Linked DNA regions of Homo sapiens. The protein of the gene in region 1 interacts with the protein of each later gene in a pairwise test. Each region holds a gene or a part of one and is shown in the gene's direction. Other genes may lie near its edges.

What was found. Proteins that work in one complex are often made in the same cells at the same time.
Region 2: the proteins of TKT (region 1) and SERPINB5 interact in a two-hybrid assay, tested with the Homo sapiens proteins (one study listed by BioGRID).

The regions. Positions count from the first base shown.
Region 1 is NC_000003.12:53,231,063-53,239,663, reverse strand, and holds part of TKT (transketolase), read left to right. Parts: intron 1-1,843; coding exon of another isoform or gene 1,844-1,867; intron 1,868-4,489; coding exon 4,490-4,681; intron 4,682-6,389; coding exon 6,390-6,508; intron 6,509-8,113; coding exon 8,114-8,307; intron 8,308-8,601. UniProt on the Homo sapiens protein: Catalyzes the transfer of a two-carbon ketol group from a ketose donor to an aldose acceptor, via a covalent intermediate with the cofactor thiamine pyrophosphate.
Region 2 is NC_000018.10:63,500,244-63,505,585, forward strand, and holds the end of SERPINB5 (serpin B5), read left to right. Parts: intron 1-3,086; coding exon 3,087-3,479; 3' UTR 3,480-4,842; downstream 4,843-5,342. UniProt on the Homo sapiens protein: Tumor suppressor. It blocks the growth, invasion, and metastatic properties of mammary tumors.

The DNA.
Region 1 (8,601 bases):
TTTGTAGGAACGGCCCCCCAGGAAGGTTCTAGCCATAAGTTTGTCTGCGGTGGTCAGATATGGCCTGGGGGGATGAGGTTGTAAACTGTTAAGAATAATGGCTGGCTGAGGGAAGGATTGCTTGAGGCCAGGAGTTCCAGACCAGCCTAGGCAACAGAGCAAGACTCTCTCTACAAAAAATACAAAACTTAGCCAGGCATGGTGGTACACACCTGTAGTCCCAGCTACATAGGAGGCTGAGGTGGGAGGATCACTTGAGCCTAGGGCTTCAAGATTATAGCTATACATGATTGAGCCACTGCACCCTAGCCTGGGCTACAGAGCGAGACTCTGCCTCTTTAAAAAAAAAATTATTCTTTTTTTTAAAGAATAATCACTGTATTAGTCTGTTTCCACACTGCTGATAAAGGCATACCCAAGTCTGGGGAAGAAAAAGAGGTCTAATGGACTTACAGTTCCACATGGCTAGGGAGGCCTCACAGTCATGCTGGAAGGTAAGGAGGAACAAGTCACATCTTATGTGGAAGGCGCAGGCAAAGAGAGAGTTTGTGCAGGGAAACTCCCGTTTTTAAAACCATCAGATCTTGTGAGACTTATTCACCATCACGAGAACAGCATGGGGAAGACCTGTCCCCATGATTCAGTTATCTCCTGCTGGGCCCCTCCCACAACCAGTAGGAATTACGGGAGCTACAAGGTAAGATTTGGGTGGGGACCCAGAGCCTAACCATGTCAGTCACTCATCAGAAGGGTTCCTTTGCCCTTTGGGGGCTAGGCCCTGTGCTCAGTGCTCATGTGCTGTATTGGGTTCCACCTTTAAAAGCCCCCTGTGAGTTGGGTAGTGGTGTGAGAACCGTGACCCGTCTTACAGGTGAGGAAGCTGAGGCAAGATGCTGGCCTAGGCCATCCAGTTGGTGGTGGAGGTACCCAGGCTGCTCTTGGAGAGGCTGAGGGCACCACAGGAGCTCGGGGAGTCCTGTGGGCGGGAAGCCTCCTAGAGGAGGAAGGCCAGTGGGGCCAGCCCGCAGGGTGTGAGAAGGGCCCAGTTCTGCAGCTGATGGCATCTCCACTGCCCTGTCCTCCACTCCTGCAGCAGAAGTGCCATAGTGGGGTTCGGGAAGACTGTGGGTCCTTGAAGGACAGGAGGCTGCAGGGAGCACCTTCTGTGTGCAGGCCCTTCCCCAGGACTGGCTCTCCAAGGAGGCCTCACAGTCCCTTCCAGACCCCTTCAGGCCAGTGTCACCTGACCACAGTTTGCTTTCATTCCTTGGTGAGCCTTGGGGCAGGCTTGGCTACACCCAGAAGTGATTCACCATGAAGTAAAGAGAGAGAGACACACAAAGAATGAGATGCATGTTTAAGAGCATTTTATTTGGCAGAGAACCAGAGATGTGAGTTAATTATTCCCTACAGTTGCTGGAAATAATTCCCTGTGAAGGGGCATTTCCTGACCCTAACATAATGGAACAAGTCAGTGTAGGGAGAAGGAGTTTAGCTGGGTTCCCAGAAGCCAGGGTGGCTTGGGGCCAGGGTTGCCTGGAGCCTAGGCCCCTGACTGTACCTGGGGGAAGGGGCCAGGGCATCCAGGGATTATCATGTCAGGCCAGGCACCCGGAGGTAGCGTCTTGATAGAGCAAACTGGTCTCCACTCACTGTTTCTCCCTGCCCTCCTGTTTAAAAAGTACAGAATGATATTAAGAAATGAACGTTTTCCTTATTTTTTTATTTTTATTTTTTCTGAGATGGAGTCTCGCTCTGTCACCCAGGCTGGAGTGCAGTGGTACGATCTCGGCCCACTGCAACCTCCGCCTCCCGGGTTCAAGTGATTCTCCTCCTGCCTCAGCCTCCCGAGTAGCTGGGACTACAGGTACGTGCCACCACGCCTGGCTAATTTTTTGTATTTTTAGTAGAGACGGGCTTTCACCATGTTAGCCAGGATGGTCTCAATCTCCTGACCTTGTGATCTGCCCACCTCGGCCTCCCAAAGTGCTGGGATTACAGGCATGAGCCACTGCACCCAACCAATGTTTTCCTTATTCTTAGCACACTGCCTCCCACCCCCAATTTAAATCTAATGATGTATTTTGTCCATGTTATCATGAGAAAAGCTTACAAATCTGTAATCCCAGTGTGTGTGTGTGTGTGTGTGTGTGTGTGTGTGTGTGTGTATAATATAAAATCTAGTATTACACTTTAAACCAAGCCTTCTATCATGAGCTTTTTCTCCTGATATTAACAGTGGAGAGCTGGTTTTTTTTGTTTTGTTTTGTTTTTTTGAGATGGAGTCTTGCTCTGTCACCCAGGCTGGAGTGCAGTGGTGCCATCTTAGCTCACTGCAACCTCCGCCTCCTGGGTTCAAGTAATTCTCCTGCCTCAGCTTCCCGAGTAGCTGGGATTACAGACGCGCACCACCACACTCAGCTAATTTTTATATATTTAGTAGAGACGGGGTTTCATGACGTTGGCCAGGATGGTCAGTCTCAAACTCCTGACCTCAGGTCATCTCCCTACTTCAGCCTCCCAGAGTGCTGGGATTACAGGCGTGAGCCACTGCACACATCCTGAGAGCTGGTTTTAATGATCACATAATATTCTGTTTTATGGAGATGCTATAATCCATCTAGCCAGTCCTTTGTTGTTGGACACGTAAGGTAGTTTCCAAATCGTTCTACAACAAATGTCGACCTTCTGTTTAGGGTTCCCTCTCTTCAAATTAGTTCATGAATGGATGTTTGCAGCCCCCCACCCCTAACTCTAACAGCTCAGGCAATACCAAGCCTCAGGGTTAGCCCAGGCTCCTGTAGGCCCCTTCCCTGTTCACAACCCCTTCCTTGGCATCTCCTCGGGACCTCAGCACGCCCTCTGACCTGAGCCTGATGGCCCTGTAGGGCTTAGCCTTGTCCCTAGTCTCGAAGCCAAAGCTGTGCTGGGCCTCCAGTGCTAGCCTCGGTTCGACTTCCCTGGAAGTGGGTGTGGGCTTGGGGTGGCAGCCAGTTGCCTTCCCTGGAATCCCTTTCTGGGAAGTCGAGTTGGCTTCTCTGGCTCAGCCCCATCATGTGGCCCCTTTCTGGAGCTGCTGTGCCAGACCAGAGTCCCTGCAGGGTCTCTGGGCCCCCTCAAAACCTACAGGGGAAAGAGGAGGCAAGGCTGGGACAGGATAGGGCCTCTGAAGTGTGGGCCTGAGGCTTTGTCCTTCTGGCCATGGTACCCCACAGGGGCACCACCTCCTGTGGTGGAGGCCACAGAAGAGCAGTATGAGGCAGGAGAGGCTGCAGGGAGTGCTCCTGGCCTGCTGGCATGTGGAAGTGCTGAGTCATGCTGACAGCTCCGTGGCTAGCTGTCCCAGCCTCTTCCTGCTGCCCCTGCCTTGGCCCTGCGGCAGGGAGGCCTGGAGGCTTGGACTGCTGAGCATGCAGCCGGGTTGAGGGCCTTTTCCTGCAGGAGCAGGAGGGCAGCCATGTCCCCTCTGAGCCCAACCAGGCACCAGCCTCATTTCCTAGGGCTACACAGCTAGACACTGGGCAGGGTAAGGGGAGGTCCCCAAGTCCTACCACTCCTCACCCTACTTGCATGCCTGCACGGCAAGGAGCGGACAGTCTAGGCTACAGTCAGACCTGCGTTTGAATCCTGGCTCAGCAACTTCCTGACAGCGCGACCTTCAGACAAGTCCTGTCTGTTGCTGCCGTCCCTCTGCTACCCCCATCCCCTCACATCTCCCAGGCCGGGAACGTTCTGTTTGCTGGGTAATTTATCCCAAGTTCAGTGTTCTTTTTAACGTCTCACTGTCTTGAAAAGATCACAGTTGCCTGTGTTGAGGGGAGGAGAGGGCCCCTGTGGTAGAGAAAGAGCCAGGTGCAGCTTCAGTCTTGGGGTCAAGAGCTAGTCTTGGAAGCTTGGGGAGAGCCTGTCCCAGGAAGCGCCTGGTCCTCAAGTGCCCTCTGCTCTATCCTCCCCAGAGCCCTCTTGCTCCAGGGTGTTGCCTAGAGTGCCTCAGGCCTCCTTGGCCCACCTCCCTCCTCCGGGCAGAAGCAGAGCTTGGTTCCCAAGGTTCCCCTTTCCCACTGGCCCACCCAGCCAGTCCCAAGGCCTCCTCCAACCTCTGGTTCACAGCGGGGTCTGTCCCCTGCAGCAGGTGGCTCAAGCCTATTCACCCACCCTTCCTCACTTTCCTCTCATTCCAACAACCCCCATTTTTCTAGATCTTATTAGCCAGATCCCTGTTGTCCTAGACCTCTGTTTCTTAACAACCAGTACTTCTTCCTGAGCTCCTGACGTCTTCCTTCATGCCATTTTCTCTTGGGGTGTGGCTTGTGGTAGGCTGCAGGAACCTGGTGACACTGTTGCCCCTCGAGTGTAAATGCCATCTGTTCTGCATATCCATGCGTGGCTGCTCCTTTACCCAGAATGCAGGCTCCTTGGATGGGTGGGGGGGTGGGAGCCAGCTGGGTCCAGGTGAGAGGGACTGGCCTGATTCACTCTCTGTCCACAGCTACCGAGTCTATTGCTTGCTGGGAGACGGGGAGCTGTCAGAGGGCTCTGTATGGGAGGCCATGGCCTTCGCCAGCATCTATAAGCTGGACAACCTTGTGGCCATTCTAGACATCAATCGCCTGGGCCAGAGTGACCCGGCCCCACTGCAGCACCAGATGGACATCTACCAGAAGCGGTGCGAGGCCTTCGGGTATGTACGAGGCTGTGGCCTGAGTGTGGTCACAGCACGGGAGAGTGGTCTGTGATCACAGCTTTGCAGGTGCAGGTGCAGGAGCTGAAGCTGGGACCTTAAGCACCATCTAAAGGTCCCTTTCTTTAGCATTTGACTCACAATTTCAAACTCTAGGCATTTGGACTTAATGGCTCAGGATATGTGGGCCAGGCCCAGTTTTAAGTGAGTTTCCTTGTTTTCGTGGTTGTGGCATGGTGGCTCTCGGAGCTTCCACACACCATCTCACGTCAGCTCGCTTTGTTCTTGAGGAAGGAGGGTTCTTGAGGGATGGGGGCTTGCTCGGTAAAGCTAAAGGATGTATAGCTGCGGAGAGGTTTGAACCTCAGTTTGGTGGCCACGTCCTGTGCCCAGCCCCGCCCAGCCTGGGGAGGAGGAACAGGCTCCTGGTGAAATGGGAGATAGGGTTTCCAGATGCCCCCCTTCGGCCTTGATTGGTTACAAATTCAGGGTCAAAGGGCACAAAGCAGGGAGGTCAATCTGCATGGGTGTCAGCCAGAGGGGCTCCACCTCAAAGCCTCCACCGGTGTTGCCAAACACAAGCTGCTCTGCACAGGGGCCCAGCATTGGCTGAGGAGGCTGTGGAGGGGAGGGAGCAGGGCAGGTGCCGTGCAAGGCTTTGAGACTCAGGTCAGGCCTCCAGGACTGCGTTTTGCGGATGAACCCATGCCTGTGACTACACTAAGTAACAGGATGCTTGGGGTTACCTTGCAGTAGCACAGCATACGCAGGCCTGTGTTCCCTGATGACTGACCTCAGAAAGGGAGAGGAGGAAGGGAGGAAATAATCTCTGTTGGACAGGCGAGGAAACTGAGCCACAGGGTCCTCACCCCACAGGCCTCCCCAAGGCCACATCTATCTGGGGACTCAGAGTACAACCCCAGCAGCACCCCCAGGACCTGTGTCCATAACCTCGTGACTCAAGCCAGATTCCTGAAGTCCTGGCTCCACCGCTAACTTGCTTTGTGGCGTGGGTCACGTTACTTACTCCACCTTCGGTGTCTCAGTTGATTTGTCTGTACAATGGGGCCAGCTCAGCACCCAAGCATGGCGTGGTGAGGCTTCAGTGGGCTAATATGGGTAGTGGTTGGCATGGCACTCAGTTTGAGAAGTGCTATTTTTATTCTTATGTCAAAAAGAGTCCCCAAAAGGATAGCTTTTCAAGAGAAAGGGTGCTCTGCCCCAGCTCCTTCCTGTATATTTGACTCCATGGTTCATTTCAAAAACATTTCCAGCACCACATCCAGCATCTGTGGAGTGATCAAATGTGTTCCCCAAATAAGAATTGGGCCAAAAAATTCATCAAGAATCTAATAGCAGACAGATTCCAAACCCAGTGCGCTGACCCCAGAACAGCTTTCAGTAGGAAATGAGCAGATCAGGAATGAAAGAGACAATAAAGGAACTGAGCTCTGGATTACTTAAGAGGAGGAGGAAAACCTGTTCAGAGGCAAACAAAAGGAAGTAAAATAATGTGAAAAAGAAAAGGATTTAAAAAACCCAAACTGGAAACAGGAATGTTGCAAGCTTTCTACTACTCCAGCTGAGGCCGCAGTTGTGGGGTGGAGCCTGGGCAGACCCCAGCTGCCAAGGCAGACCTTTCCCTGGAAGGCTCCTCGGTGTTGTGGCCCCTGGGAATTGCCCCTTACTCTCTGCCCCCTGTCCCCAGTTGGCATGCCATCATCGTGGATGGACACAGCGTGGAGGAGCTGTGCAAGGCCTTTGGCCAGGCCAAGCACCAGCCAACAGCCATCATTGCCAAGACCTTCAAGGGCCGAGGGATCACGGGTCAGTATGCACAAGCCGCCCTCCCCACCTTCACCCCTCGCCCAGACACTGTGGCTACGTAGCTCTGACCCGCACATCCAGGGAAACAGCCCTTGCTGCTCACTGAGCTCACCAGGCTCCAGGGAAGGGGAGCGGGAGATGCTGTGACTCAGTGACCCCTGTGGCTGAGCCAGGATTTAAACTCAGATCCGTCTGGCCTCTGCCGGTGGGGGCATGTACAGGCAGGAGGAGAGGAGGGACTTGGAGGGTCTGTGGGTGAGAGGAAGGTCGTGGAGTGAGGCAGCCCCCGTGCCCCACCCTGGCTGGTGCCTTTCAGAGCTGCAGCTGTGTGTGCTCTGCCAGCTCCGGCCACCTGCTCCAGCTGAAGGGCCGACACAGAGCCAGGCAGGGCCCGGAGAGAACTGTTCCCTCCAGGAGGTGAGTGGGGTACTCCTCAAGCAATGGCAGATGCTGAGCAAGGCCTGTGTGGGCCAAGAGCCTTGGGGGGTTTGGAACCTGGGTTCTGCCCCAGGCCGGAGAATGAGGCAGGCGTAAGTCACTCCCTGGCACCCAGGTGTGGGCTTCAGATTCCTAGGCCTGGGATGGCCTCACCCATTTTAAAGATGGGAAAATGAGACTACAAGTGGTCAGGGACTTGCCCGGGGACAGAGGAAGTCTATGGCACGAGGGGGGCTGATCCCAGGGCCTGGGTCGGCTTCCCTGCCAAATGCCCCTGGCTGCCCACCTGCCTGCTCTCAGGGGTTGTGGCTTGTTCTGCCCATGTAGACTCAGGTATATGAGGATGTTCTGAGTGGGGGTTTGGCAGTGCTGGGAGGTGTCTGGGAGGGGGTGGATGTCGAGGAAAGGGCTCTGGGATATTGTCATGGCTTTGGTGCTGCTGCCTGGCACTGCCCTCTGGTGTTAAAAATGGGCAGGATCTGGACCACTTGCAGCTTCTTGGGGGCTCCTGCTAGTCTTTCGGGCTGCTGGGTGCTACCTGGGAGTTCAGTCTGTTCTTGGCTCTGGCCAGACTCTAGTGACTACTGAGGTGACCTCCAGGGAGAGGGATATTCAGCCTTCCTGGCCGCACACAACAAGGTGCCATGGGGTGGGCATGCCTAGGTGCTTATAGACTCCTCTGCTGCTCACAGATGCATTGGGTGACCCTGGAAGCCCTGTTCTGGGCCTTGGGTTCCCCTTCTGATGGCCAGGGTCCCTTCCAACCCAGTCGACAAACTGAGTATTTCTGCAGCAGACACCTCTACCTGTGTGTGACCCTGCAGGCGGGGTTGTGGGGAGGAAGAGAATGGACACATTGGTGAAGGGATGGGGCAGTGGGCCCAGAAACACACACCTGCCCACGTCTGGCCCCTCCTTTCCCACTCAGCTGTGAGCTCCCAAAGGACCAGGCAGTAGACAGTGAGTGGTGGGCACGTAGGAGTCCATCCTATTCACTGCGACCCTCCTTTCCTGGCCCCCGTGCCTGGCTGGGCTCTGCCTGTCTGGGATGATGCCATTCCTCCCTTGCCCTCGGCAGGTAGAGGGCCAGTCTCCTGGAGCAGCCTCCTGGCCCTCTGGGAGCTTCTGTCTTACCCATTCCTCTGTCCTCCCGTGTTGGGTCTGCAGGGGTAGAAGATAAGGAGTCTTGGCATGGGAAGCCCCTCCCCAAAAACATGGCTGAGCAGATCATCCAGGAGATCTACAGCCAGATCCAGAGCAAAAAGAAGATCCTGGCAACCCCTCCACAGGAGGACGCACCCTCAGTGGACATTGCCAACATCCGCATGCCCAGCCTGCCCAGCTACAAAGTTGGGGACAAGGTACAAAGTGGGGCCTGTTTCTCTGAACCCATAGTTCTCAGGTTTCCCAAGTCTGTGGCCCAGATACACCCTCTGGAGGGCTGGGAAAGGGAGGAGAGCGATTCATTTAGGGCGAGGAGTGATCCCTGAGGTGTTGTTCCTGTCACTTCCCTCAGAATGACAGACATCTCTGGAGTTGACCTGCAGAGGCTCAGACCGGGCAAGGGAATTGCCCACTTAGCAAGCTTAGCAAGCTACTGACAGAACTGAGATCAAAGCCAAGGACTCACTCCCAAGTTCTTGCATCGCTGGTCC
Region 2 (5,342 bases), on another chromosome or scaffold:
TGTAAAGGTGGGATCTCACTGTGTTGTCCAGGCTGGTCTTGAAATCCTGGCCTCAAGCAATCCTCAGCCTCAGCCTCCTGAAGTGCTAGGATTATAGGCATGAGCCACCACACCTGGCCTTCACAATTTACGTTACGGTTCACTCTTTGTGTTGTACATTTATGAGATTTTAATACGTACACATATATGCTTCAAAATTTTGAATTATGCAGATACTATTTTATAGTACACATTATATATAAGTATTTTATTTTATATGATAAGGGTTATTATATTATTTTATTTATATAGATTTTTAAGGCACAAAGTTTAAATAAGAGTAGCAGTTTTCTCTGCAGGTGAATGGAGTTTTAGCTTCCTCTCTGCTCCCTCACCTCTGCTTAGCTGGCTGAGGCCTGTTCTCCCTTTAGTCCCTCCCTGGCTTCCATTCTAGCTCCACCCCGCCTGGCCTCAACCCTTGGCCAGGAAGGAAGAAGGGGCTCTTTGAAGGCCTGGATCACTTGCTATATATCCACATGGGCCTCAGTGATTTGCTGACTTTCCAGGGGACCATCCAGTCTCCAGCTTGCTCCTTTGGTTGCCATTATGTTTTAGCCACCACTTTATTAACTGAATTATAATTCCTGTCCTTCTTCTTCTTTGGTGCATTACTCTCTCTGTTTTTTTTCTTTCCATTTTATGCTTTGATCTTTCAGCCATTATCCAGCTGTCTTGGATTTTACCTTTCGTTCTTAAAACGCCCTCCAATAAACATCAATTATTTTCTTCTTCTTCTTCTTTTTTTATTTCAATAATTTATTTTTCTTTTTTTTAATTATACATTAAGTTTTAGGGTACATGTGCACAATGTGCAGGTTTGTTACATGTATATACATGTGCCATGTTGGTGTGCTGCACCCATTAAGTTGTCATTTATATTAGGTATATCTCCCAATGCTATCCCTCCCCCCTCCCCCCACCCCACAACAGGCCCTGGTGTGTGGTGTTCCCCTTCCTGTTTCCAGGTGTTCTCATGGTTCAATTCCCACCTATGAGTGAGAACATGCAGTGTTTGGTTTGTTGTCCTTGTGATAGTTTGCTGATAATGATGGTTTCCAGCTTCATCCGTGTCCCTACAAAGGACACGAACTCATCATTTTTTATGGCTGCATAGTATTCCATGGTGTATATGGGCCACGTTTTCTTAATCCAGTCTATCATTATTGGACATTTGGGTTGGTTCCAAGTCTTTGCTATTGTGAATAGTGTTCCAATAAGCATACGTGTGCATGTGTCTTTATAGCAGCATGATTTATAATCCTTTGAGTATACACCCACTAATGGGATGGCTGGGTTAAATGGTATTTCTAGTTCTAGATCCTTGAGGAACTGCCACACTGACTTCCACAGTGGTTGAACTTGTTTACGGTCCCACCAACAGTGTAAAAGTGTTCCTATTTCTCCATATCCTTTCCAGCACCTCTTGTTTCCTGACTTTTTAATGATCGCCATTCTAACTGGTGTGAGATGGTATCTCATTGTGGTTTTGATTTGCATTTCTCTGATGGCCAGTGATGATGAGCATTTTTTCATGTGTCTGTTGGCTGCATAAATGTCTTCTTTTGAGAAGTGTCTGTTCACATCCTTTGCCCACTTGTTGATGGGGTTGTTTGATTTTTTCTTGTAAATTTGTTTGAGTTCTTTGTAGATTCTGGATATTAGCCCTTTGTCAGATGAGTAGATTGCAAAAATTTTCTCCCATTCTGTAGGTTGCCTGTTCACTCTGATGGTAGTTTCTTTTGCTGTGCAGAAGCTCTTTAGTTTAATTAGATCCCATTTGTCAATTTTGGCTTTCAATTATTTTCTTCTTAAAGTATAGAACTAAAGAAAATGACCTTTTGAGTTTTGGAAATGATTTTTTTTTTTTTTTTGAGATGGAGTCTTGCTCTGTCCCCCAGGCTGGAGTGCAGTGGCATGATCTCAGCTCACTGCAAGCTCCGCCTCCTGGGTTCATGCCATTCTCCTTCCTCAGCCTCCCGAGTAGCTGGGACTACAGGTGCCTGCCACGACGCTTGGCTAATTTTTTGTATTTTTAGTAGAGACGGGCTTTCACTGTGTTAGCCAGGATGGTCTCGATCTCCTGACCTCGTGATCCACCCACCTCGGCTTCCCAAAGTGCTGGGATTGCAGGCGTGAGCCACTGCGCCCAGCCGCATCTCTCTCATTTTTTAAAACAGCTAAAATGGATGCATTCACTACCTATGACCCTAGGGCATGGCTCAGAGTTAGTTCAAATTCCCATTAAAAAAAAAAAGTAACTTTAGCTTTAATTTAATTTTCTAAATCTGATGCCATTCCTAGTACATGAATATTCTGGATTTCCTCGTAGAGAAATTACAATAAGCATTCAAGAAATATGTGTAAAAAGCTTTCTAATTTTATATTCATTTCACTATTGTGTATGCAACATCATGATCCAGGCATTTGTTTCTATAAATCTACTCTCTAACTTAAGGTTGGGTGCGGTGGCTCACACCTTTAATCCCAGCACTTTGGGAGGCTGAGGCTGGCACATCACTTGAAGCCAGGAGTTTGAGACCAGCTTGGCCAACATGATGAAACCCTGTCTCTACTACAAATACAAAAGAAAATTTAGCTGGGCATGGTGGAGTGTGCCTGTAATCCCAGCTACTCGAGAGGCTGAGGCACGAGAATTGCTTGAACCCAGGAGGCAGAGGTTGCAATGAGCGACGATCACACTATTACACTCCAGCCCGGGTGACAGAACAAGATTGTCTAAAAAAAACCCAAACAAACAAACAAACAAACAAAAAACTACTCTCTAACTTAAAATGAAAAAACAGAACCCTGTCCTCATAAATTTCAGTGCACATGGAACACTGTTATAGGCTGGGGAGGAGGAGGACACAGCTGGGTGGCTGCTGGGTCTCCTGAGTCACATACCAAAAACTTCTGGGCCATCTTTGATGTTCCACCCAGACTGCTTTGAAGCTGGGCTTATCATAACACCTTATGTTTTCAATTGAGCCAGGTCTTTTACAGTTGGAAATAAATAAAAATAATTTCTTTTCATTTTTGTCCTTCAGATTGAAAAACAACTCAACTCAGAGTCACTGTCACAGTGGACTAATCCCAGCACCATGGCCAATGCCAAGGTCAAACTCTCCATTCCAAAATTTAAGGTGGAAAAGATGATTGATCCCAAGGCTTGTCTGGAAAATCTAGGGCTGAAACATATCTTCAGTGAAGACACATCTGATTTCTCTGGAATGTCAGAGACCAAGGGAGTGGCCCTATCAAATGTTATCCACAAAGTGTGCTTAGAAATAACTGAAGATGGTGGGGATTCCATAGAGGTGCCAGGAGCACGGATCCTGCAGCACAAGGATGAATTGAATGCTGACCATCCCTTTATTTACATCATCAGGCACAACAAAACTCGAAACATTATTTTCTTTGGCAAATTCTGTTCTCCTTAAGTGGCATAGCCCATGTTAAGTCCTCCCTGACTTTTCTGTGGATGCCGATTTCTGTAAACTCTGCATCCAGAGATTCATTTTCTAGATACAATAAATTGCTAATGTTGCTGGATCAGGAAGCCGCCAGTACTTGTCATATGTAGCCTTCACACAGATAGACCTTTTTTTTTTTTCCAATTCTATCTTTTGTTTCCTTTTTTCCCATAAGACAATGACATACGCTTTTAATGAAAAGGAATCACGTTAGAGGAAAAATATTTATTCATTATTTGTCAAATTGTCCGGGGTAGTTGGCAGAAATACAGTCTTCCACAAAGAAAATTCCTATAAGGAAGATTTGGAAGCTCTTCTTCCCAGCACTATGCTTTCCTTCTTTGGGATAGAGAATGTTCCAGACATTCTCGCTTCCCTGAAAGACTGAAGAAAGTGTAGTGCATGGGACCCACGAAACTGCCCTGGCTCCAGTGAAACTTGGGCACATGCTCAGGCTACTATAGGTCCAGAAGTCCTTATGTTAAGCCCTGGCAGGCAGGTGTTTATTAAAATTCTGAATTTTGGGGATTTTCAAAAGATAATATTTTACATACACTGTATGTTATAGAACTTCATGGATCAGATCTGGGGCAGCACCCTATAAATCAACACCTTAATATGCTGCAACAAAATGTAGAATATTCAGACAAAATGGATACATAAAGACTAAGTAGCCCATAAGGGGTCAAAATTTGCTGCCAAATGCGTATGCCACCAACTTACAAAAACACTTCGTTCGCAGAGCTTTTCAGATTGTGGAATGTTGGATAAGGAATTATAGACCTCTAGTAGCTGAAATGCAAGACCCCAAGAGGAAGTTCAGATCTTAATATAAATTCACTTTCATTTTTGATAGCTGTCCCATCTGGTCATTTGGTTGGCACTAGACTGGTGGCAGGGGCTTCTAGCTGACTTGCACAGGGATTCTCACAATAGCCGATATCAGAATTTGTGTTGAAGGAACTTGTCTCTTCATCTAATATGATAGCGGGAAAAGGAGAGGAAACTACTGCCTTTAGAAAATATAAGTAAAGTGATTAAAGTGCTCACGTTACCTTGACACATAGTTTTTCAGTCTATGGGTTTAGTTACTTTAGATGGCAAGCATGTAACTTATATTAATAGTAATTTGTAAAGTTGGTTGGATAAGCTATCCGTGTTGCAGGTTCATGGATTACTTCTCTATAAAAAATATGTATTTACCAAAAATTTTGTGACATTCCTTCTCCCATCTCTTCCTTGACCTGCATTGTAAATAGGTTCTTCTTGTTCTGAGATTCAATATTGAATTTTTCCTATGCTATTGACAATAAAATATTATTGAACTACATGTCTTGTTTTTTTTTTCCTATTAAGTTAGACTATTTTGAAATAGAACCAAGCCGTGCGTTTACAAAAGCATCCCTGAAGCAGGCAGATCACAAGGTCAAGAGATTGAGACCATCCTGGCCAACATAGTGAAACCCCGTCTCTACTAAAAATACAAAAATTAGCTGGGCGTGGTGGCGCCCACCTGTAGACCCAGCTACTCAGGAGGCTGAGGCAGGAGAATCGCTTGAACCTGGGAGGCGGAGGTTGCAGTGAGCCAAGATCAGGCCACTGCACTCTAGCCTGGCGACAGAGCAAAACTCCGTCTCAAAAAAAAAAAACAAAACAAAAACTCAAAACATAAAAACAACAAAAACAAAACAAAACAAAAAGAACAAACCCCAAAAAACCCCAAAGCATCCCTGTAGGTAAAATGCTCTTTTGAAGATTGAGGCAGACTAAAAAGAAATAAGAATAATTACTTCCTCTTTTCCCTTGTTTTCCTTTCTTCCTAGCCCTCAG